Homo sapiens: one gene and its partners. The protein of the gene in region 3 purifies or fractionates together with the protein of the main gene of each other region. This does not show direct contact. Each region holds a gene or a part of one and is shown on either strand. Other genes may lie near its edges.

The links.
Region 1: the proteins of MAK16 (region 3) and RPF1 purify together in Homo sapiens (affinity purification with mass spectrometry; 2 studies listed by BioGRID and IntAct, with this or other methods). This does not show direct contact.
Region 2: the proteins of MAK16 (region 3) and DDX27 purify together in Homo sapiens (affinity purification with mass spectrometry; 2 studies listed by BioGRID and IntAct, with this or other methods). This does not show direct contact.
Region 4: the proteins of MAK16 (region 3) and RSL24D1 purify together in Homo sapiens (affinity purification with mass spectrometry; 2 studies listed by BioGRID and IntAct, with this or other methods). This does not show direct contact.
Region 5: the proteins of MAK16 (region 3) and ZC3HAV1 purify together in Homo sapiens (affinity purification with mass spectrometry; 2 studies listed by BioGRID and IntAct, with this or other methods). This does not show direct contact.
Region 6: the proteins of MAK16 (region 3) and RRP8 purify together in Homo sapiens (affinity purification with mass spectrometry; 2 studies listed by BioGRID and IntAct, with this or other methods). This does not show direct contact.
Region 7: the proteins of MAK16 (region 3) and FTSJ3 purify together in Homo sapiens (affinity purification with mass spectrometry; 3 studies listed by BioGRID and IntAct, with this or other methods). This does not show direct contact.

The regions. Positions count from the first base shown.
Region 1 is NC_000001.11:84,496,266-84,498,852, reverse strand, and holds the end of RPF1 (ribosome production factor 1), read right to left. Parts: coding exon 2,483-2,587; intron 1,425-2,482; coding exon 1,383-1,424; 3' UTR 501-1,382; downstream 1-500.
Region 2 is NC_000020.11:49,239,916-49,243,415, reverse strand, and holds part of DDX27 (probable ATP-dependent RNA helicase DDX27), read right to left. Parts: intron 1,524-3,500; coding exon 1,429-1,523; intron 1,334-1,428; coding exon 1,210-1,333; intron 823-1,209; coding exon 735-822; intron 1-734. UniProt on the Homo sapiens protein: Probable ATP-dependent RNA helicase. Component of the nucleolar ribosomal RNA (rRNA) processing machinery that regulates 3' end formation of ribosomal 47S rRNA.
Region 3 is NC_000008.11:33,491,682-33,495,181, forward strand, and holds part of MAK16 (protein MAK16 homolog), read left to right. Parts: intron 1-3,500.
Region 4 is NC_000015.10:55,183,624-55,186,941, reverse strand, and holds part of RSL24D1 (probable ribosome biogenesis protein RLP24), read left to right. Parts: intron 1-1,516; coding exon 1,517-1,580; intron 1,581-3,318. UniProt on the Homo sapiens protein: Involved in the biogenesis of the 60S ribosomal subunit. Ensures the docking of GTPBP4/NOG1 to pre-60S particles.
Region 5 is NC_000007.14:139,047,221-139,050,720, forward strand, and holds part of ZC3HAV1 (zinc finger CCCH-type antiviral protein 1), read right to left. Parts: intron 634-3,500; coding exon 374-633; 3' UTR 1-373.
Region 6 is NC_000011.10:6,597,595-6,600,616, forward strand, and holds part of RRP8 (ribosomal RNA-processing protein 8), read right to left. Parts: intron 2,989-3,022; coding exon 2,892-2,988; intron 2,672-2,891; coding exon 2,552-2,671; 3' UTR 1-2,551.
Region 7 is NC_000017.11:63,818,933-63,821,798, forward strand, and holds the end of FTSJ3 (pre-rRNA 2'-O-ribose RNA methyltransferase FTSJ3), read right to left. Parts: coding exon 2,791-2,866; intron 2,712-2,790; coding exon 2,422-2,711; intron 2,184-2,421; coding exon 2,098-2,183; intron 2,007-2,097; coding exon 1,907-2,006; intron 1,507-1,906; coding exon 1,323-1,506; intron 1,242-1,322; coding exon 1,147-1,241; intron 1,063-1,146; coding exon 870-1,062; 3' UTR 501-869; downstream 1-500.

The DNA of each region.
Region 1 (2,587 bases), on a different chromosome or scaffold from region 3:
TAGTCTTGCTCATTTTTCTAAGGATGTTTGGATTTTTGATTTAAGAGAGTTTTATTAACCTTTTTTATTATATACAGAATGTATTTTGGCAGTAATCTTAGCAAGTTAATCTGTAAGTCTGTTTATAAAACAGGAATGACTTATACATCAGAGTGGTTGTGAAAATTAAGGGAAAGATTTTACTGTTACTGGACCATAGGCATTTCCCATCCTGCTTCTTTTAAGTTATTCATGAAAAAAATTAAAAACTATGTTCTTTGATACTTTACCCTAACTCACCTTTTTTTTTTTTTCCCCATCTTAGGTTTCCCAAACCACTCCTTATGATCCAGTGAATATTCAAGAGAGCTACATTTGAAGCCTGTACAAAAGCTTATCCCTGTAACACATGTGCCATAATATACAAACTTCTACTTTCGTCAGTCCTTAACATCTACCTCTCTGAATTTTCATGAATTTCTATTTCACAAGGGTAATTGTTTTATATACACTGGCAGCAGCATACAATAAAACTTAGTATGAAACTTTTATTTTGCATTATTATTGGTATTAAATACATGGTATATTAATCTGTTCTGAACACCTGAAGGGGTTAAGTTTGTACAGTTTTTTCCACCTACTCTTCTCACATGACTTTATGCCATACATCTGGCAAGACTGCTAGGGAATTAAAGGTAAACTGTGAACCTTTATTCTTTTAAGGTCAGGAGGAGGCTGTTAAGTTCTACGGGTTTCCATCCATGAGTTACTTATAGGGTTAACTTTGTTTCAGTGCCTGAATGGAGTACTACAGCACCATGTAATGAGGTAAAAAAGAGCTCCCCACAACGTGGGCACAAAAAACCAAAAACCTCAAAATCAGGAAGCAAAGATTAGCTTCAGTAATTTGCAACTTTGCTTTAAACCCTGGTAGATCATTTTGCTTTAAATTTTTTACCCTTCTGAAGGCTTAAGAGAATGTTAAAACATCCAGAAACCTGGCCTCCATTTAAGCTATTAAAACTGTGCCAGACACTGGGAATCCAAGGTTAATCTGGTATAAAAATCAAGGGTTAGCCAATATTTACCAACCATTTTATTCCTCTCATGTGTTCTATGCAAATAGGAAAGTTAATCTGAATCTTGATTCCAACTTAATTATTCACAGTTACCCAAAAACAAGAGAACTAAGTTTAAGGAAACCTAAGCCATCAAAATAACTTTTATTTGTATTTTCTACATAAACACACAGTGGCAATTCATGGCATTTGGTAATTCGTCCAGACGTGAAAGGTTTATGAAATCAGCAAATGCCATTTTGAAAAGAGTATTCTGTCAAAAATAATTTACCAAAGTTCAAGATAGGCCTGTTCAGCAAAATCCAATATCATTCTCTCAGTACTTTATAAATGGAATTTTCTTCTACTTGTATCCATTTCCCGGGGCTGAAAGTGGAAAGCAAGGGAGTGGAGGAAGAAAACAAAACAAAAATATAATTAACAATTCAGGTAAGACAGTAAAAGTTAACGTCCCTAGATCTTCATAAGTAACACTAGTGCTGAAAAACCGGGTTTGTGCGAGACCCCGAATAGTCAGTCTTCGGTCTAATATAAAAGATGTTGGCAGTTACTGTGTGTGTGTGATTTTAAAGTAAAATGTTACTAAGTGAAGTACTGCTTATACTAGATAGAAAAGGATGTTTTAGGCCATGCACGGTGGCTCACACCTGTAATCCCAGCACTTTGGGAGGCTGAGGCAGGCAGATCATGAGGTCAGGAGATCAAGACCATCCTGGCTAACACGGGGAAACCCCTTCTCTACTAAAAATAGAAAAGATTAGCCGGTGTGGTGGTGCACACTTGTAATCCCAGCTACTCGGGAGGCTGAGGCAGGAGAATAGCTTGAACCCGGGAGGTGGAGGTTGCAGTGAGTCGAGATGGCGCCCCTGCACTCCAGCCTGGGCAACAAAGCTGAGACTCATCTCAAAAAAAACAAAACAACAACAACAAAAAAGTTTTCATTTATGATTTAAGATGATGATCTCCAAACTTCTAAGAAAACTTATCAATAGTTCTCAAGAAACATGTAGTAGAGTCACATATAACACAGGCTTATAAGCAGATTGCTGCTGGGTCCCACCCCCTAAATTGCTGATCGAGTAGGTCTGTGGGCCAAAGAATTTTCATTCCTAATAGGTTCCTAGGTAATGGTGCTGGTCTCGCTTTGAGAACCACTAATGTTTATACTTCAGATGAGCCAAGGTTAATCACCAGACCCAGATATTGTATCTTTTTTTTTTTTTTTTTTAGTTCAAGGGTATATGTGCAGGATGTACAGGTTTGTTACATAGGTAAACGTGCTATAGTGGTTTGCTGCACAGATCATTTCATCACCTAGGTATTAAGCCCAGCATCCATTAGCTATTCCTGATGCTCTCTCTCCTCCCACCCTCTTATCCCATACTTTAAAAATGACTTAGTCTTTTTAAACAATAAGCACATACCTTATGGACCCATTCATACTCTCCATATTTAGAATCAAAGGTTCCTTTCTGAAGAGACCTTAATTTTAAGGTAAAACGTGGTCCAAGTTCCTGAATTCCCACTTT
Region 2 (3,500 bases), on a different chromosome or scaffold from region 3:
TTAGGTATATACCACTACTTGGGAAGCTTAGTCTGCCCCTGCCCCAACCTTGGGCTGGGGAAAATGGTGTGGGACAACATATTCCTAAGAGCAAGCCAGGATTCTCTGGGGTTCTGCAGGATGGAACTTGAGATGAAAGAGTTATCACTCCCCTGAAGGAAAGCTCCATTTCTGAACCCAACAATGTACTATTTCACCTCCAAGGCAGGAACAGTGCTAACTGAACACCCCTCTCCTGTTCTCACCTTGGGATCCTCAGGTGGCTCTGAGAGGGGTGGGGGGTGGAGAACAGACAGGTACCCTTGAATTTACATAGTATAAAGCTATAGGTGTGCAAAAACTGGAAATGGGGAAGGAGGCAGAAGACTCATAGCTTCCATTAGAATACCAAGGGCTCGCCGGGCACGGTGGCTCAAGCCTGTAATCCCAGCACTTTGGGAGGCTGAGGCGGGTGGATCAGGAGGTCAAGAGATCGAGACCATCCTGGCAAACATGGTGAAACCCCATCTCTACTAAAAATACAAAAATTAGTTGGGCATGGTGGCGTGCGCCTATAGTCCCAGCTTCTTGGGAGACTGAGGCAGGAGAATTGCTTGAACCCAGGAGGTGGAGCTTGCAGTGAGCTAAGATGCACCACTGCACTCCACCCTGGGCGACAGAGCGAGACTCCGTCTCAAAAAAAAAAAAAAAAAAAAAAAGAATACCAAGGGCTCCATGATGACTTAAAATCCTACCCAGCTCGATACTGTTTCAGGGCCTTCTTGCTTGTGTTGGTGAGTTCTTCATCAAATACAGATTTCTTCCCCTGCTTTTGCTTCTTGGCTGTGCACAGAGAGAATGGGTTACATATGGTTGTCTTTGGCCCAAGCTCCTAAATCCCCTTAAGTTCAAGGTAATGATTCCAAGTTCAGTGGATACTCTGGCATCCAAAGACTATTTTCATTCTGTCCTCACCAGCTCCTCCAAGTAGCAGCTGGTGAGGCCTTAGGCTCCGGAGTCAGAAAAGCTGGCGTTCAAATCCTAGTTCTCAACAACCACAAGGTCACTGCGCCCCTTAGACCGTGGAGGGATAGCTGTACACATTGGTACATACTAATTACTCAAATAATGTGGGCTACTGTCATCATCCCTCAGATTTTCTCCCTGACCCAAAGCACAGGTTTCAGGGAAAACCTTGTACAAGCTCCTTTGGGCTCCCCATTCACCTACCAGGACCTCTCACTGGCTCCTCCTCGGGCATTGCTCGGGCCCGCTTGGCTCTGCGATTCCTCTTCGCTAGCCGTTCAGCAAACATCTGCGCCTTGAGGATTTCAAACTGAGACCTTTCCTCTGCCTAGGGGGAGTGGGGAGGTGTGAGTGTGGAACACACCAGGCCACTCTGACCCACCCCACCGAGTGGGCCCAAACTCCAAAAGGGAGGCCACTCACTGTCATCTCCCCCTTTTTTTTGGCATCCTTCATAAACTTCTTCCTTTTCTTCTTTCCTCTTAAGGCCAAGTCAAATTCCTGCAGAGCTTTGGCAACTGGGATGAGAAGAAAGCATAAGATTTCAGGGATGATTTTATCTTTTTTTAAGCTTACGATAAGAAGTGCACGTTTTCAATTGGTAAGTTAGCAGATTAAAATGAAAAGCGGCAAGCACTTCTTGGCCGAGTGCAGTAGCTCGTGCCTGTAGTCTCAGCACTTTGGGAGGCTGAGGTGGGTGGATCACCTGAGGTCAGGAGTTTGGGATCAGCATGGCCAACATGGTGAAACCCCGACTACTAAAAATACAAAAATTAGCTGGGCATGGTGGTGCACCTGTAATCCCAGCTACTTGGGAGGCTGAGGTGAGAGAATTGCTTGAACTTAGGAAGGGGAGGCTGCAGTGAGCTGAGATCGCGCCACTGCACTCCAGCCTGGGCGACAGAGCGAGACCCTGCCTCAAAAAAAAAAAAGAAAAGAAAAGCCGCAAGCACTTCTTCCACTGATTACCTCCATCTCACTAAATAACATGCTTTTTTGACTATTTCTCAATCCACTTAAGATACTCATTACAAACCTCCTGCTATGAAGGATGAAGATTTAGGTCACTTTACTACTTTACCCACCAATACAGTTATAACTCTATTTTTATCAGAAATTTAAGTTATATACACCCTTATTTTGTCCCATCAAATATAGACAGCATTTCTAAAACTGCTGGTATACCCTCTAGGAGGGAAATTTTGCAACCTCTAACAAAACTAGAAATACAAATATCCTCTGACCCACTATTCCACTTTTAGGAATTAATCCTGCAAGCCAAATATACACTTGCTTAATTGTAAAAGGGCATATGTGCAAGGTTATTCCCTACATCACTTGTTTGTAATGACAAATGATTATTTTTTGGGTTTTTTGTTGTTGGTGGTGGTGGTTTGAGTCGGGGTCTCATTCTGCCGCCCAGGCTGCAGTTCAGTGGCAGAATCTTAGCTCACTGCAACCTTGACCTCCCCAGGCTCAGGTGATCCTCCTACCTCAGCCTCTCAAGTAGTTGGACTATAGGCATGCACCACCATGTCTGGCTAATTTTTTGATTTTTAGTAGAGATGGGGTTTTGCCATGCTGCCCAGGCTGGATGACAAATGATTGTAAACAACCTCAATGTCCCTCAACAATCTACTCATATGATGGAAGAACATGAAGCCATTAAAAAAAACAAAAAGGGGGCCGAGTGCAGTGGCTCACACCTGTAATCCCAGCACTTTGGGAGGCCAAGGCAGGCGGATCACGAGGTCAGGAGATCGAGACCATCCTGGCTAACACGGTGAAATCCCATCTCTACTAAAAATACAAAAAATTACCCAGGTGCGGTGGCAGGCACCTGTAGTCCCAGCTACTCAGGAGGCTGAGGCAGGAGAATGGGGTGAACCCAGGAGGCAGAGCTTGCAGTGAGCCGAGATTGCGCCACTGCACTCCAGCCTCAGTGACAGAGCAAGACTCCGTCTGAAAACAAAAAACAAAAAGGGCAGCATATGTGGGCCTATATAAAACATATCTCTAAGCTTCAAAATTAAGTGAAAAGGCGAGGCATAGAACAATGTGAACTTATAAGTGTTTTGGGTCTTTTTTAAAGGGAGATGGAGAGGAAATCTGTATTAAATATCTCCTAACTTTTTTAAAATTATTTTTATTGTGGTTATATATACACATATAAAACAAAGGCTGCCATTTTACCCAATCTTAAGTATACAATTCAGTGGCATTACTTACATTCACAACATTGTACAACCATCACCACTATCTGTTTCCAAAACTCCTATCAGGAGGCTACTCACTGACATCATTGAAAACAGAAGCTCTGCAACCACTAATAATTTCCTATAACCCCCCTTCCCCTAGCCCTAAGTAATCTATAATCTATTTCTGTCTCTGTGAATTTGCCTAGCTAGATATCTCAGGTAAGTGAAATCAGACAGTATTTGTCCCTTTGTGTCTGGATTATTTCATTCAGCTTAAGATTTTCAAGGTTCATCCTT
Region 3 (3,500 bases):
GGAGTGCAGTGGTGCGATCTTGGCTCACTGCAACCTCTGCTTCCTGGATTCAAGTGATTCTCATGCCTCAGCCTCCCAAGTAGCTGGGACTACAGGTGCATGCCACCATGCCTGGCTAATTTTTATATATTTTGTAGAGACGAGGCTTCACTATGTTGCCCATGCTGGTCTTGAACTCCTGGGCTCAAGCAATCCAACCACTTCAGCCTCCCAAAGTGCTGGGATTACAGGTGTGAGCCACCATGTCTGGCCCTTTTATTCACTTTTTAATCCAATAATTAGAATTTTTTCCTATAGAGTTGTTTGAGCTCCTTATATAGTCTGGATTTTGTTTTGTTTTGTTTTTGAGATGGAGTCTCATTCTGTCACCCAGGCTGGAGTGCTATGGGGCAATCCCAGCTCACTGCAACCTCTGCCTCCCAGGTTCAAGCGATTCTTGTGCCTCAGCCTCCCAAGTAGCTGGGATGCCAGGTGTGCACCACCATGCCTGGCTGTTTGTTTTGTATTTTTAGTAGAGATGGGGTTTAGCCATGTTGGCCAGGCTGGTCTCGAACTCCTGACCTCAGGTGATCTACCTGCCTCAGCCTCCCAGAGTGCTGGGATTACAGACGTGAGCCACCGCGCTGGCCTGTATTCTGGTTATTAATCCCTTGTCAGGTGGATAGTTTGCCCAGTCAGTGGATTGTCTCTTCACTTTGTTGTTTCCTTTGCTGTGCAGAAGCTTTTTAACTTGATGTGCTCCCATTTGTCCATTTTTGCTTTGGTTACCTTTGCTTGTGGGATATTAAGAAATTTTGCCCAGATCTATGACCTGGAGTTTTCTCAGTGTTTTCTTGTAGTTTTGTAGTTGGAGGTCTTAGTTTTTTAATCCATTTTGGTTTGATTTTTGTATATAGCACAAGATAGGGGTCTAGTTTCATTCTTCTGCATATGGAGATCAAGTTTTTCCAGCACCATTTATTGAAGAGACTGTCTTTTCCCTAGTGTATGTTCGTGGCACGTTTGTCGAAAATGAGTTCACTGTACGTGTGTGGAATTGTTTCTGGGTTCTCTATTCTGTTCCATTGGTCTCTGTGTCTGTTCTTATGCCATTACTATAGTGTTGTGGTTGCTATAGGTCCATAGTATAATTTGAAGTTAGGTAATGTGATTCCTCTAGGTTTGTTTTGTGTTTTTTTTGTTGTTTTTTTTTGTTTGTTTTGCTGTTTTGTTTGGGATAGCTTTAGCTATCCTAGATCTTTTGTGGTTTCATAACAATTTTAGGATTTTTTTTTCTATTTCTGTGAAGAATGTCATTGGTATTTTTCTTTTTTTTATATTTATATTTGTCATTGGTATTTTGATAGGGATAGCTTTTCTTTTGATGCTTCTGTCCCCATTAATCACAGTTATGTATCTAAAATCTGTATCATTGGTCTGCAAAGTTGTGCTCACCTCAGTAAAATTTTTGAACATGTATTCCCCAATGTTATTTATAAATATTTTATTTTGAGACAAAGGTTCATTCTGTTTCTCAGGCTGGAATGCAGTGGTGCAGTTTTGGCTCACTGCAACCTCTGTCTCCTGGATTCAAGCAATTCTTGTGCCTCAGCCTCCCAAGTAGCTGGGATTCCAGGCATGCACCACCACACCCGGCTAATTTTTGTATTTTTAGTAGAGATGGGGTTTCACCACATTGGCCAGGCTGGTCTCAAACTCCCAACCTGAGGTGATTCACCCGCCTTAGCCTCCCAAAGTGCTGGGATTACAGGCTATAAATGTTATTATACATACACACTTCCACTAATAATACAATGTGTATTATAACTAATTGTGATGTAGTGAAACAAAAGTCTGCTTCTTAGCTGAGTATGATTTTGTCTTGAAGGGCTGTCATACATAACTGAGGGATTGTAGAGAAGTGCATTGTTGATAGGTGGTCTCAAGTACTTTAATTTTTCATTATGCTCCATTAGTTATGGAGCGGCTTTTTTTCAAGTCCAGTTAGTGAGTTTTCATCTCCAGTTGTCAAACAGGTGTTCCTACAAACCTTTCAGAAGAAATTAATTTTTTCTATTTTCACCAATTGAGTTTGTAACCCTCTGAAAAATGTAGATTTGGAAGAGTTTTAAATGCATTACAATATTCTGTTTCCACATTTTTAAAGTGTGTGATTGCAATTTTTATAGGAGACATGTTTTCAGCAGTGCCATATGTAGATATAATCAGTTTTCTTTTCACAACCTTCACAGAACAAGTTTTTTTTTTTTCAAAAAACAATTGTCTTCCTCAAACTATTAAAATGTTGCTTTTGTTTGGAAGACACAGATTAAGCGTATTTATTTTTAAAAATGTCTACTGGGTTACATAAAAAGATTGGCAAATTTGGAATATTTTTCTTTTTGTGAAAAGTGCATGGATCATCTTTAGGTTCTACAGCTTTTGCTCTGTCGCCCAGGCTGGAGTGCAGTGGCGCCATCTCGGCTCACTGCAACCTCCACCTCCTGGGTTCAAGCAATTCTTGTGCCTCAGCCTCCTGAGTAACTGGGATTACAGGCATACACCACTCTGCCCGGCTAATTTTTTGTGTTTTTAGTAGAGACGGGGTTTCACGACGTTTGTCAGGCTGGTCTTGATCTCCTGACGTCGGGTGATCTGCCCACCTCGACCTCTCAAAGTGCTGGGATTACAGGCATGAGCCACCTTGCCAGCCTGGTTCTACAACTTTTAAAAATACTAACCCATTAGATAACCAGCATACTTTTATAACTACTCTCTATCTTTGGCAGAATATTCAGTGTCATCTATGAATCCGCTTAACTAAGCAAACATAAACAGTTAAATAGTCGTCTAAATAAACAAGTGAGACCACCACTTGCAAGCCCTATCTGCCGTATTCCTCCCTTGAGATATCTGGCTCACTGTATCTGACACACAACTATTTACTTTATAGACAGAGTCAAGGCACCAATGTCAGTGTACAAGAAAAGTAGTAATGATGTTAAATTTTTTAAGGAAAAAGAGATATGTGGAAGTTTTGAATATTTTCTTCCTACACTTCAGCGGATACCCTTGAAGTGTAAACACCCCACTCTAGAGAACAACATGGAACATCGCTGTAGCCCTTTTTTTTTTTAAGATGGAGTCTTGCTCTGTTGCCCAGGCTGGAGTGCAGTGGCGTGATCTCGGCTCACTGCAAGTTCCGCCTCCTGGGTTCACACCATTCTCCTGCCTCAGCCTCCCGAGTAGCTGGGACTATAGGCGCCCGCTAACATGCCTGGCTAATTTTCCATGTGCCCCTACACAGTTTTACGTAATCATTCTAACATAACTTACAGATATAACACTTTAAAACCCTCTATGACTTTCACTATCAAATTAATGCACCATCCTGGGCTATTGTGTGGTAGTACAGGTTGATGTCATGTGTCATCTCCAATGAGAGATCACTGGAGGAAGAGATTTTTACCTATTCTGTCACATGGAATCTAGCATGATTTTAGAAAATGTAAACGAATGAA
Region 4 (3,318 bases), on a different chromosome or scaffold from region 3:
TTTGTTAAATTAATTTTTTCTCTTTGTCTCTCTTCTTTCTCCCTTTCTCCCTTTAGTGTATATTTTTCTGAACTGTTTAAGCATGCAAAATACTTCTTGGTCCCTAGTTTAATATGTATTTCCAGAAATAAGAGCATTCTCACATAACCACACTGCAATTATTAAAATCAAGAAATTAACATTGATAGACTATTATTACCTAATCTTAGTCCTATTCATATTTCTCCAATTGTCCCAGTAATATCCTTTATAGCAAAATTTGTAAGAATAGTACATGTCATGTCTCTTTAATCTCTTGTAATCTGGAACATTTCCTGAGTTTGTCCTTATATTTCATGATATTGACAGTTTAGAACAATATGGGCCAGGCGTTTGGTATAAAATTTCTTAACTGGATTGTTTGGTGTTTCCTTCAGATTAGGTTTGGATAATGCACATTTGGCAAGAGCACCAGAGATTTGATGCTGAGTTTTTTCAGTGTGTTTTGTCAGGAGACACAAGCTGTCCATTAGTTCCATTACTAGCAGTGTTAACTTTGATCATTAGGTTAAGGTGGTGTCTGCCAGGTTTTTCCACTGAAGAGTTACTGTTTTACTCTTTTTAATTAATAAGTATACTTTTGAGAGATACTTTAAGACTATATAAATATCTTATTATTCTTTAGATCTACAGACTACACTTTAAAGAGCTAGACTAGATCAGAAGTGTCTGAGCTACTGAGCCAGTCTAAATTGCGTTGTGCTGTAAATGTGAAATGAATGCTGGATTTTGAAGACTTAATATGAAAACAAGGATAAAATGTTTCACTAGTAATTTTATATAGATTGCATGTTGAGTGACAGTATTTTGGAAATTTGGGTTAAATAAAATGTATCATTAAATTTCCTCCTGTTCGTTTTTACTTTAAAAAATACGGCTACTAGAAAATTTAAAATTTCATATGTGGTTTGTCTTTCATTGGATAGTACTGATAGAAATTTTAGAGCATAGTTGGACTCAGCCCCCTTTTAGCCAACACTCCTGTAGGCATTTTCTAAAACAGTTGGATTTTTGTGGTTGAGAACTTAGTAGTATTGATTGTTTGGTTCATTCTGCTAATATCATGTGCTGACCATATCCCAGGCACTTTTAAGTGTTCATAACCAGAAAGATGCTGTCTTTATTCATGGAAATTACAAGTTAAGAATGGGATTAGTTGTCAGTAGTCCAAGTTCTCTTTATAGTAAAATTTGAAAAGCATTGGATTGGTTTAAAGTGGAAGGAAAATTTAACAGCAGTAGAGACTTTTGTCAGATAAAAATTAGAGAAATGATACTTGTGAAAGAGAATGTTGAGAGTCATGATGGCCAGGAGTATACACCTTCTTCAGCTTTTTGAGTAGGGATTGTTTTTGTAATGATTTTTTTCATGTAAATTCATTTCTAAATCAGAATAATAAAGAAGTGTTTGTTAATGCAGTTGTTGATCATACCGCTTGAATGTGCATACATTTGCTAACTCATGAATTTTTTTGTAGTTGATGCGATGAAGAGAGTTGAAGAAATCAAACAGAAGCGCCAAGCTAAATTTATAATGAACAGGTATGAATATTTGTATGGAGTAACTTTTGGAAAATAATTACTAGTAGATATTTAGAGGCATTAGTATTTTTTAAAAAAATTTTTTATTTTGACATAACTTCAGACTTACCAAAAACTTCAAGGAATAATATGAAGAACTCTTGTATATTCTGCTAGCATTTTACATTTACTTTATCCTTGTCTCAATGTATTGAAGACATAATGCTTTTTCCTTCTAAGTATACTTAAGTGTGTGTAACCTAAAAATAAGAACATTCTCTTAAATAAACACAGTATGGTTATCTATCAGTCAGGAAATTAACATTGATGTAATACTATTATATAATCTATAAACCTTATTTAGACCTCACCAGTTATTCTGATTACGTCCATAGCAACACAAAGTCCTTCATATTTCTTCAGGCTCCTTTAATCTGGACAGTTTCTCATCTTTCTTTTACGTGACATTGATAGTTTTGAAGACTATAGGTCAAGTTATTGTATAGAACGTTCTTCAATTTGGGTTTGTCTGATACCTTCCTCATTAGATTTTGGCTAGGCACCTTTGGCAGGGATGTCTCAGAAATGATGGCGTATCCTTCTCATGCATCATATCGGGAAGCACATGATGTCACCTTGCTGGTGATGTTAACTTTGATCACTTGATTAAGGTGATGTCTGTCAGGTTTCTCCACTGGAAGATTACTATTTTGTTTTCCTTATAATCAGTACGTATTTTGGGGGAGATACATAGAGATTCAGTAAAAAGCCTATTACTCCTCAAACTTGTACCTACTGGTTTTGGTTTTCATTAGAGTCTTGCCTGAATCAGTTACTACTATTGTTGTGATTGTTGCCAAATGGTGGTTTTTCTAATTCCATCATTTCTTCTACATTTTTTAGTTGATTTTCTCATGTAAGAAAGAGCTTTCCCTTTTCCATCAATTTCAAGATTTATTCCTTTATTCATATTACATCTGTGTGTATTCATGGATTCTTATGGTATACATTGGGTTATAATTCTTTATTGTCATTATTTATTTTGAAGTTCTAAGTGGCCCATATTTGGCCTGTGGGAGTTCCTTCAGGCAGACTGTCATGTCATTTTGACAATTCTCCTCATTCTTTGAGTGCATTCATGTTTTATAGCTAACAAGATGTTTCCTCTTCCCCAGCTTGGAATCAACTATTTTTTTCAGAGCAGGACCATTAGCTTTTAAATTAATTGCTATGGAATATGTCATGGAAAAGAAGCACGTGCCAGCAGCTTTCTGGCTTAAAAATTTTAAAGCATTTCACAAAAATGTTTGAAAACTAGTCTGTTAGCATTTCTATTGAATATCATGTGATTTGTGCTCTTGTAATTACCCAATGGTTTTTTAAAAATTATATAACAGAGACTTATCTATTTGAGGAGAAAAGATCTAGGCACTGTAACAGTTAAAGGTTGTTTTATGTAGTAGAGCACTGCTTCTTTTCATGACTCACATCCTTCATTTACTTAGCAAATATGTATTGAGCTCCCATTTCGTGCCAGTCTAGGTACAAAGAATGAATGAATGAATAAGTGTTGTGGTAGGGTAGGAATCCTATTTTGAGCTAATTACGAACTAAAAAACCACTTTGAGTTTGAGTTGTTAGAGAAGAAAATGTACATTTGTGAGGGCTTAACAGGTGACCTTACCTTAGATTTGGGAATAAATGTAAGGTATATATCTCTTTTAGGTTAAGTTCACCACTTGCCATTTGGGAGTAATGT
Region 5 (3,500 bases), on a different chromosome or scaffold from region 3:
CGGGAGGCTGAGGCAGGAGAATTGCTTGAACCCGGGAGGCAGAGGTTGCAGTGAGCCGAGATCGCGCCACTGCACTCCAGCCTGGACGATGGAGTGAGATTCAGTCTCAAAAAAAAAAAAAAAAAAAAAAATACAACTGCCTGGCGCTGACGCCCAGAAATGATTTCATTGGCATGGGGTGCAACCTGGGCATCAGAATTTGTTTAAAACCTCCCAGATGATTCTAATATGTAGCAAAATTTGGGGACCACTGATCTAAGACATTAGATAACTGAGCAGGAAAATATAAAACTTTAACTCCTGTCTGCGGCAATTTAGTTCTGTAAAGGAACAGAATGGTTATGGCATCCTTCTGACGCTGTATTCATCGGTTCTAACTAATCACGCAGGCTTTGTCTTCAGTATATTCAATCACATATTGTGGGTAAACCTGATCTTTCTGAAAGATGACAAAAACGGAGGGATTCGATCTGGTATCCACACAGCTGTCGAACTGTGGAGGAGGGCTCGTGTACGTTATATTTCCTTCAGTAAACTTTCCAACCAGAACTTGGGCTACAAACATAACGACGTTTTTGGCATCATACGGGCAATTTTTGTGGGAATAGATGGCATCTTTTGCAAAGTAAATTCCTAGAAAGAATCAGAAAGAAAAGTTAAGAAATATTATAAAAGAAGGTATACAGTTTATAAGATTTGTTATATACAGTCAGATGGGTGTGGACTAAGCATATGTCAATAATACCTTACTGATATTTATAAACTTTCCTTTGCACTTAAAAACATGTTAATGATGCAGGCGAACTTAAATACAGTATATAACCCTATAGAAATGACTGAGGAATATTTGCTACAGTGCAGAGCTCATGCTGATAGTGTGAGCCATTGGGTGCAATGACCAAATGACAATGTCACAGTGGCCCAATTCATGCAATTCACCCAGTGTGAGCTGAATGAGCAAACTTGGAACTGATGAGTCAGTTGATGCTTCGTCCTCAACTCTAAAACAACCTCAGATAACGATTGCTGCTTCCATACACAGCAGACCAACAATTTCCTGCCAAGTTAAAATTTTTATTTTTATCATTGTCAAGTGCTACTCTGGGCAGGTGCAGTGGCTCATGTCTGTAATCCCAGCATTATGGGAGGTTGAGGCGGGTGGATCACATGAGCCCAGGAATTTGAGACCAGCCTGGGCAACATGGGGAGACTCCATCTCTACAAAAAATTTAAAAATTAGCCGGGCATGGTGGCGTGCACTTGTAATCTCAGCTACTCAGGAAGCTGAGGCAGGATTGATTGAGCCCAGGAAGTTGAGGCTGCAGTAAGCTAGGATCATACCACTGCACTCCAGCCTGGGCAACAGAGTGAGATTCTGTATCAAAAAATACTAATAATATTTTCTAAGAAAGCTACTCTGTCGTTTTAAAGACCATGAGTAGATATTGCAACTCCTATTTCCATGCAAGAATCAATAAGTAAAATGAATTGTTTTACTTGTGGTAACAAATGTTTAATATACTTCCCATCTACTTTGTTTTTGTTCTTTTTATCATTTTATAGTTAGATGTTTGAATTCCAGAAACATTGCTTATCCTGAATAGGTCAGATACTAGATATTCTGTGCAAATGATGTTCTACTATATTTAAAGTAAAATATGGAAGTCTACCTATACTGACCTACGACGTCCAATCCCACTCCCCTTCCCAAAACAGTTTATGGCTGGCGGGAATTCTTTCACACCTGTTTCTATGCATTCACATACATATATGTGCATATGGTGGTTTATGGTGGTTTACTTGTTCATAAATAGGATCATAATATATGAACTGTTCTACAACTTTTTTTTCCACTTTAGTCCTAGAAATCTTGCTATGTCAGTACATCCAACTCTCTCTCTCTCCTTTTTTTTTTTTTTTTTTCGTTGTTGTTGTTGTTGCTGCTGTTTTTGAGACAGGGTCTCTGTCACCCAGGCTGGGGTGCAGTGGTGCAATCTTGGCTCACTGCAGCCTTGATATCCTGGGCTCAAGCAATCTTCCCACCTCAGCCTCCCATTCTAATCGGTGCGAGGCAACAGCTCATTGTGGTTTTAATTTGCGTTTGCTTGATGATTAGCGATGTTGAGCATTTTTTCATGAACTCATTGGCCATTTGTATTTCTTCTTTTGAGAAATGTCTATTCAAGTCTTTTGCCCATTTTTGAAACTTTTATTTGCATGTATTTTACGCTGAATTTATTCCCGTGCTGTAAGTTTTTGCTTCTTCAGTATCTTCTAGGATAGCTTTTTCTTCTGTGCACCTCCTCTTCTGGTTTAGGAACACGGTGTGCTTCTTCAGGAAGATTGTCTCTATGTGGCAGGGGGAGCTTAGGCATGAGTTAATCCAACCATGAGCTCTGGAAGTCTGGTGGCACATCTTGGGTGCTTTGTGCGCCTGAATATCCTCGACGACCAGAGAATCTACAGCTCAACCCTTACGTTCAGCATTACTCTCTGCATTTTTAAGTGTGTACAGCAAGAATTCAATTCTTTTGGGGTCACAAACTGCGTGCCCAGCCCCACTGTTTGGTCTGGGCACTCCTACCAACTCCACCCTCGTAACGTTGGAATGGTACACATTGTTTCCATACAGTGACATCTTTCAGACATTTGCTGGCTTTTCATATAGGCGTACTCTTGATGGCCTGGGCAGTTTCATGGGTGTCCTTAGAGTGAACATGAAGATTTGAACCTCTTTATTTGCATGATTTCATGGAGTTTTCTGGGTCAAGTGAATAGTGAACCATTTTCACAGATCACCGCAGGCCACTTATGGGAACAGCTTGCACATTTTAAAATTGAGTTATTTGTTCTCTTGCTGTTGAATTGTTTAAGTTCCTTACATATTTTGGATATTAATCCCATATCAGATGTATGGCTTGCAAATATTTTCTCCCACTCTGTGGGTTTGTCTGTTCACTTTGTTAATTGTTTCCTTTACTGTGGAGAAGCTTTTTAGTTTGATGCTATCTCATTTGTCCATTTTTGTTTTTGTTGCATCAGTTTTTTTATATCACACTTATATAATCTGGAATCTATATTTTCTTTTTTTAAAATTCCCTTTATTGTGTTAAGAAAGTTCATTTCTATTCCTACATTTCTGAGTGCTTTATTTTTTTCTTTTTTGAGACAGAGTTTTCCTCTGTCACTGAGGCTGGAGTGCAGTGGCAGGATCTCAGCTCACTGCAGCCTCCCCTTCTTGTGATCAATCAACTCTCATGCCTCAGCCTCTCGAGTAGCTAGGACTACAGGCATGTGCCACCACGCCCAGCTAACTTTGTATTTTTATTAGAGATGGGGGGGTTTCACCATGTTGGTCAGGCTGGTCTCAAACTCCTGACCTCAGGTGATTCACTCACCTCGGCCTCCCAAAGTGCTGGGATTACAGGAATGAGCCACAGTGCCTAGCCTAACATTTCATTTTTTAGGATAAATATTTGTTTGAATTCTAACATAGGATA
Region 6 (3,022 bases), on a different chromosome or scaffold from region 3:
AAAAAAAAAACACTGGCTGGGCACAGTGGCTCATGCCTGTAATCCCAGCACTTTGGGAGGCCGAGGCAGGCCGATCACTCGAGGTCAGGAGTTCGAGACCAGCCTGGCCAACATGGTGAAACCCCGTCACTACTAAAAATACAAAAATTAGCTGGGCGTGGTGGCATGTGCCTGTATTCCCAGCTACTCGGGAGTCTGAGGCAGGAGAAGTGCTTGAACCAGCAGGCAGAGGTTTCAGTGACCTGAGATCACGCCACCGCATTCCAGCCTGGGCCACAGAGCAAGACTCTGTCTTAAAAAAAAAAAAAAAAAAAAATTAACTCTCCTGGTTTTACTCCTACATCTCTGGGTGAACCTTCTCCTCTTCCATCACCTTCACTGCTTCATTTTCCTTTACCCATCCATGACATGCTCCTCAGTTCTATTCTGAGCCATTTTCTCTTCTCATTATCTTACCCTGAATATCTCATCTATTCTGACTTTAATTACCACCTCTAGGCTGCTGATTCCCAGACCCCCAGCACAGATTTCACGCATGTCCCACTTCCTAAAATCCAACACTTTGAATGGCATCACCAGCCTACCCACAGTTGAGCAACCTGGAACTTACTTCAGATTCCTCTCTTACCAACCTCAACATCCCACCAATTCTACCTAATGAAGTTCTCCTGTCTGCCTACTTCTTCCATCATGACTAGTCAACAGTGCCCTCATCTTGTGCCCTAGTACCTGGGTTTCTATAACACCCCTGTTCTCATCTATCCCACTCAACTGGACCCTGTCATTCCTTATCTCTCCCTAGGTGAATAAGTACACTGGCTATATCTCAAATGACAAGCTCCGGGAATACAAAGATAAACATGGCTTGAGAAAACAGCAGCCAAATGCACAAAGGAATCACAATGCAATATTTAGAAGCTGAAGTAGCACTCTTCACATAGTACTTTGAGAGTACAGATGAAGAACTGATTTTGCTTTGGGAGTAGAATAGGAAACAACTAGGCTGTTCGGAAAGATGAGCAAACTGCCAGTCCGATGAATATCCAGCAGAAAGAACAGTACGTGTAGAGGCACTGTGTAGTGCCTGCCTAATGATTCACAGCCCAGCCTCCAAACATGCCCTCTGGACTACAGCCTGTTTCAAAACCTCCATCCCCTTATTAGAGGCATCCAACTGGCTCAGGGCATAGAACCTATGATCTCCCAATGGGTACTGTCAGGTATTCCTGGAAACAAGTACAAGAGGCCATATCTTTATACCTGGGCACATGGCAGATACCTTTTGGGGGAGGCCTAGAATCTATCATTCAAACTCACCTTCCCTCAGCACCTTGCCTATAGCTTTCCCAGGACATGCTGATCTGAGTCCACTGCAAGGCAGAGATAGTGGACAGACTCTTCCGCCAATGAACAGCCCAATGCCCCCAAGCCCACATGGCATCAACAAGTTGTTTATGAACAGAGACCCAGCTCCCTCACTACCCCTCCAAGGACAGAAGCTCAGAATCTATTAAAAGTCATTAAATAGCCTATGAAGCAGGCCTGTTGAAAGGTCTAGCCTCTCCCAGAGGCTTCCTTAGTCAACAAATCCATTCTTTACCCCTCAGCCTCCAACCAGCCTAGGGAAGATCTTCAAAAAACAATAAGGCTTACAACACATAATAGTCATAGCTAGTTTACTGAGCACCTCCTATGTTCCCAGCCCTGGCTACAGATTTCTCCAGTTAACCCACACAACCACCCTGCAAGACAAAAATTCTACCATTTTCCAAATGAGGAATGTGATATACAGAGATTAAATGACTTTAAGTGCCTCTGGGTAGCAGGCCAAGAATTAAATCCAGGTCTACCTGATTCCAAAATCTGTGCTCTCAGCTATATACATCCCAAAGTCCCACAGGACAATAGGTGTTGGGAGTGGCTTGATGCTATATGGTTCCAAAAATGGAGATGAGGGGAGAGGGGAAAGATAAACCACTAGAAATGCTCGGTATGGGGACAACCAAACAGTCTCAAGTTGGTGGCTCAGACTGATGTCTTGAGCCAAGATGTTGGTGGACAACCAGTTGCCTCAGAGTCAAACAGCAACAGCTGCCTGTCTGCAACCTTGAAGGCCTGGGCAAACTGAAGCTGAAGGAGCAGAAGCTATGGGTGAGCAGAGGAAGCTGATCTGTAGACAGATCAGATGACAGCAGAGTGGAGATGGCAGGACAGGAAGGCCATGTGGCTTCTTAGTTGGAAAGAAGAGCAAAACCTAAAGATGCCTTGAATTCCAAACCATCTAGTTTTCATAACACCTGAAGTGTCATGAGACAGATATCCCCATGTTCTCACAATAAACTCTTTATTGTTTAGCTAGCCCCAGTGACTTTATGCATCTTATAACCAAGAAGCCTTCAGTAGAGCAAGTCTGAGCCAGAGGTTTTATCACACTTTGTCCTCAGGGTCCACCAGGAACCAGGTCTTGGCTCACAGCCAGGCTGGAAACAGTCTTCACAGTTCTGAGCCTGGAGTTTGAGATCTGCCTCCCCTTTCAAGGAAGATCCAGAGGTCACCTGCGCTTGTAGAGACATGGCTGAAGCTGCAGGCCTGAAAGCTGAGCCTTGGGCCCTACCAGAGGGGGCCCAGTCTTTTGGAAATCAAACAAGAAGAAATGGCTGTTGGTCAGGTCCTAGGGGCAGAAAAGACCCAGTGAGAACCAAATCCTCATCCCAACTCCTTAAAACACCTCCCTCTATGTACTGCCTCTGCTCACAAAGCTTCCCAGGGCTCCCACTTCCGTTGGGGAGCAAAATGTCTGTTCCTGTGCCTAAAGCCTCCTTCCTGAACACCAGTACCCTGAATAGGGCCACATGAGACAAAAACAGGTACAGATGTCTTGGGGCCCTCACCTTGGAGACAATCTTGAAGCCTAGCTTGGTCACAGCCCGCAGAAAGGTTCGAACATCCTCAAAGCGGCTGCTGACCTCAGCCACTTTCAGGAGACCCCTGAGAAAGACAGAAAGTTCTGTGTAAGTGCACA
Region 7 (2,866 bases), on a different chromosome or scaffold from region 3:
AGGTTTGCATCCAGCCCTGAGACATGTAGGAAACACCTTTCAGACCCAGGCTCTGAAGATTCCCAGAAGCCACAAGGATTGAAGGGAAAAGGTGATCCTGGTAACTGTTCCAGGATTGCTCCAGGTTTGAGATGGTATTGCTAAATTTAAAATTAAACAAGAAACCCAACAACAGCTTTTAAAGTGTCTTCTATCTCATTGTATTTTTTTTAACTTGCCCCAATGATAGAAAAGTCTTTTGCTGAAATGATTTTGATGATTTTTGTTTATCGTTTATAAAAAGGAAAAGAAATATACAAACTTTGACTTTTGTGACTTTGTGAAGGTTTCTTTAAGATGTGCATTCCTTTCTGCTTGCTCTCTAGTAAATGTTTTACTACCGGGACCTGTGGATCGTTTGTCATTTCTGTCTATGAATTGGTACATATTAAGAATAGTGCCGCACACAGTGTAGGGACAGATAGGGAAGTGCTTATTAAAACTGTCAGAAAAGACAACTCTTCCATTATCCTGGTTTTATTCAGGAATAGGATGGGGGTGGGGAGGGCTTAAGTGGCCCACACGTCCAGGTGTAGACTGACTACATTGAGTATCGCTCCAACACCGAACTTCCCTTTAACGGTTTAAAAAAAGGGTCATGAGTGTCAACACAGTTCAGCAGTGTTTTCATGGGAGACCTTCAGGCAGGCAGGAGGACATCCTCCTCTCTGCTCAGGACCACCACGGGAGTTCTAGGCACTCCACCTCACTGTTCTTCAGACAGCTGTGATGTGAGCAGGGGCTAGGCCGGTAATCAAGGGGGCCAGACTGAGCCATGCCACACCCTTCCTCCTAGTCCCCATGCTCTCCTGGGAGCCTGGCAGCTCTGCTTACTTCCGTTTGTGTTTTTTCTTTTGTTCCTTACGTTGCTGTGCTCTTTGGTCCTTCTTCATCCTTGAGTCCACCACCTTGAAATGACCTCTGACTCCAGCTGGCCGGCGCACTTTGCGGCCCACACCTTTTTTGGCTACAACGTAGGTGACATGGCGTTTCTCCTTGCCAAGCCCAGCCTTCTTGTAGAGACTACAGGGGGGAAGAGAAGAGGTTAGAGGCTTGCTTTCTGCTGCACTTTTAGCCCTGTGTACCTTTGTGGTGTCCTCCCATTACCTTCGCAGCTGTGCCACTTTCTCTCGTTCTGAGATGTCCACTGTGTTCACCACGGCTTCTGCCTTCTTCCTGGTCTGCTCCAGCCTCTTCAGCATCTGCAAAGGAACCTGTCAGGTGACCTCTTCCCCATCCCCCCACCCCCACCCCACCCAATCTCTGGAGGCCCCATCACTTACCCTCCTTTTCTTTCTAGCCTTAGCCTCAGCCACCTTCTTGATGGGACGTGCATTGATTTCCCGCCAGCGTTTCCGGTAATGCTCCACCTCCTTCTTACCAACAGGCAACTGTCGTATCCGGTGCTGCTTTTCCTCTTGCACAAACCACTCCGGAAGCTCCCCCTCATCCTCATTAAATGTGTACCTGAGTGGAAAGGACATCTGTCTAATATCCAACATTCCAGGCTTTCTAAAGAAATTACCAGACTGGGCACGGTGGCTCACGCCTGTAATCCCTGCACTTTGGGAGGCTGAGGTGGGCAGATCACCTGAGGTCAGGAGTTTGACCAGCCTGGCCAACATGGTGAAACCCCATCTCTACTAAAAATACAAAAATTAGCTGGGCGTGGTGGTTGGCACCTGTAATCCCAGCTACTCAGAAGGCTGACTCAAGCGATTCAAGGAGAATCAGGCTGCAGTGAGCCAAGATCGTGCCATTGCACTCCAGCCTGGGCAACAGAGCGAGACTCCATCTCAAAAACAAAAAATTACCCATTTACCCACCAGACCCTGGGTCACTCTTGATGAGTTTATGGCCCCTTTACCGGTTGAAGGAGTTATCTATGAGGTCTCTCTTGGCCTTTTTGGAAGAGGCAATAACAGCACCTAGAGCAAGGCCTTCGGGGTCCAGTATCCGATGTTTCGCTAGAGAGGGAAGGAGAAAGGTCAAAGCTCAATTCCCAATACTGAGACTTCCAGTGGTCTTTTCTCATTCCACTGCATACAGAGCTCTCACCTGGGTCCTCAATAGGCACTATCTCAAACCCGTCATCATCTGACTTAGGCCCACGGCTTCGCTTCTTACCACGGAGGGGTTCCCAGCTGTGAAGAGGGGAGGACTCTGAGTGATTCCACCACTCTGTACTACTCAGACCGCACTCCCACGGAATTTGCAAAAATCCTGCCATGCAGGCTGTACCCCAGACCAGTTAAATCAGGATCGTCAGTACAGTATTTTTAACCCTCCCCATGTGCAGCCAAGATTAAGAACCCCCAATTTAGAGAAATGGTTCAAGCCACCGCTTCCTTTCCATCCCTTCTCTCAGCTGCAACTACTCACCTCTCTTCTTCCTCACTGCTAGTACTGCTATCACTGTCTGAGATGCCATCCTTTTCTTCCCCTTCAAGGCCAGTGGCAGCTTCTGTCCCCGAAGAAGCCTCTGTTCCCTTAGGGGCTTCATCTTGGTACAGGGGAGACATTATCTCAGTCTTCAAACAGGAAGGGGGTGTCTGTGGCAGCTGCTGCTTCTGCTGCTGCTGCCGTCCCTTCCGCCGGTTCTCAAATAACAGCTGGGCCTGACTGATCTCCAGGGCCTCATCGGCATCGTCCTCGATCCCAGCAAAGCTGCCCTGTGATAGGAGAACATCAGCTGCCCTTCTCCCAAGGAAGACTCATCTCCCCGCAGTCTTGCCCCCGGCCTCTCCTTACCTTTGAGAACCACAGGTTGGCTTGTTCTTCCTGCAGTACTGCCTTTTCCTCCAGTGGTACCAGCAGTGGATTCTCC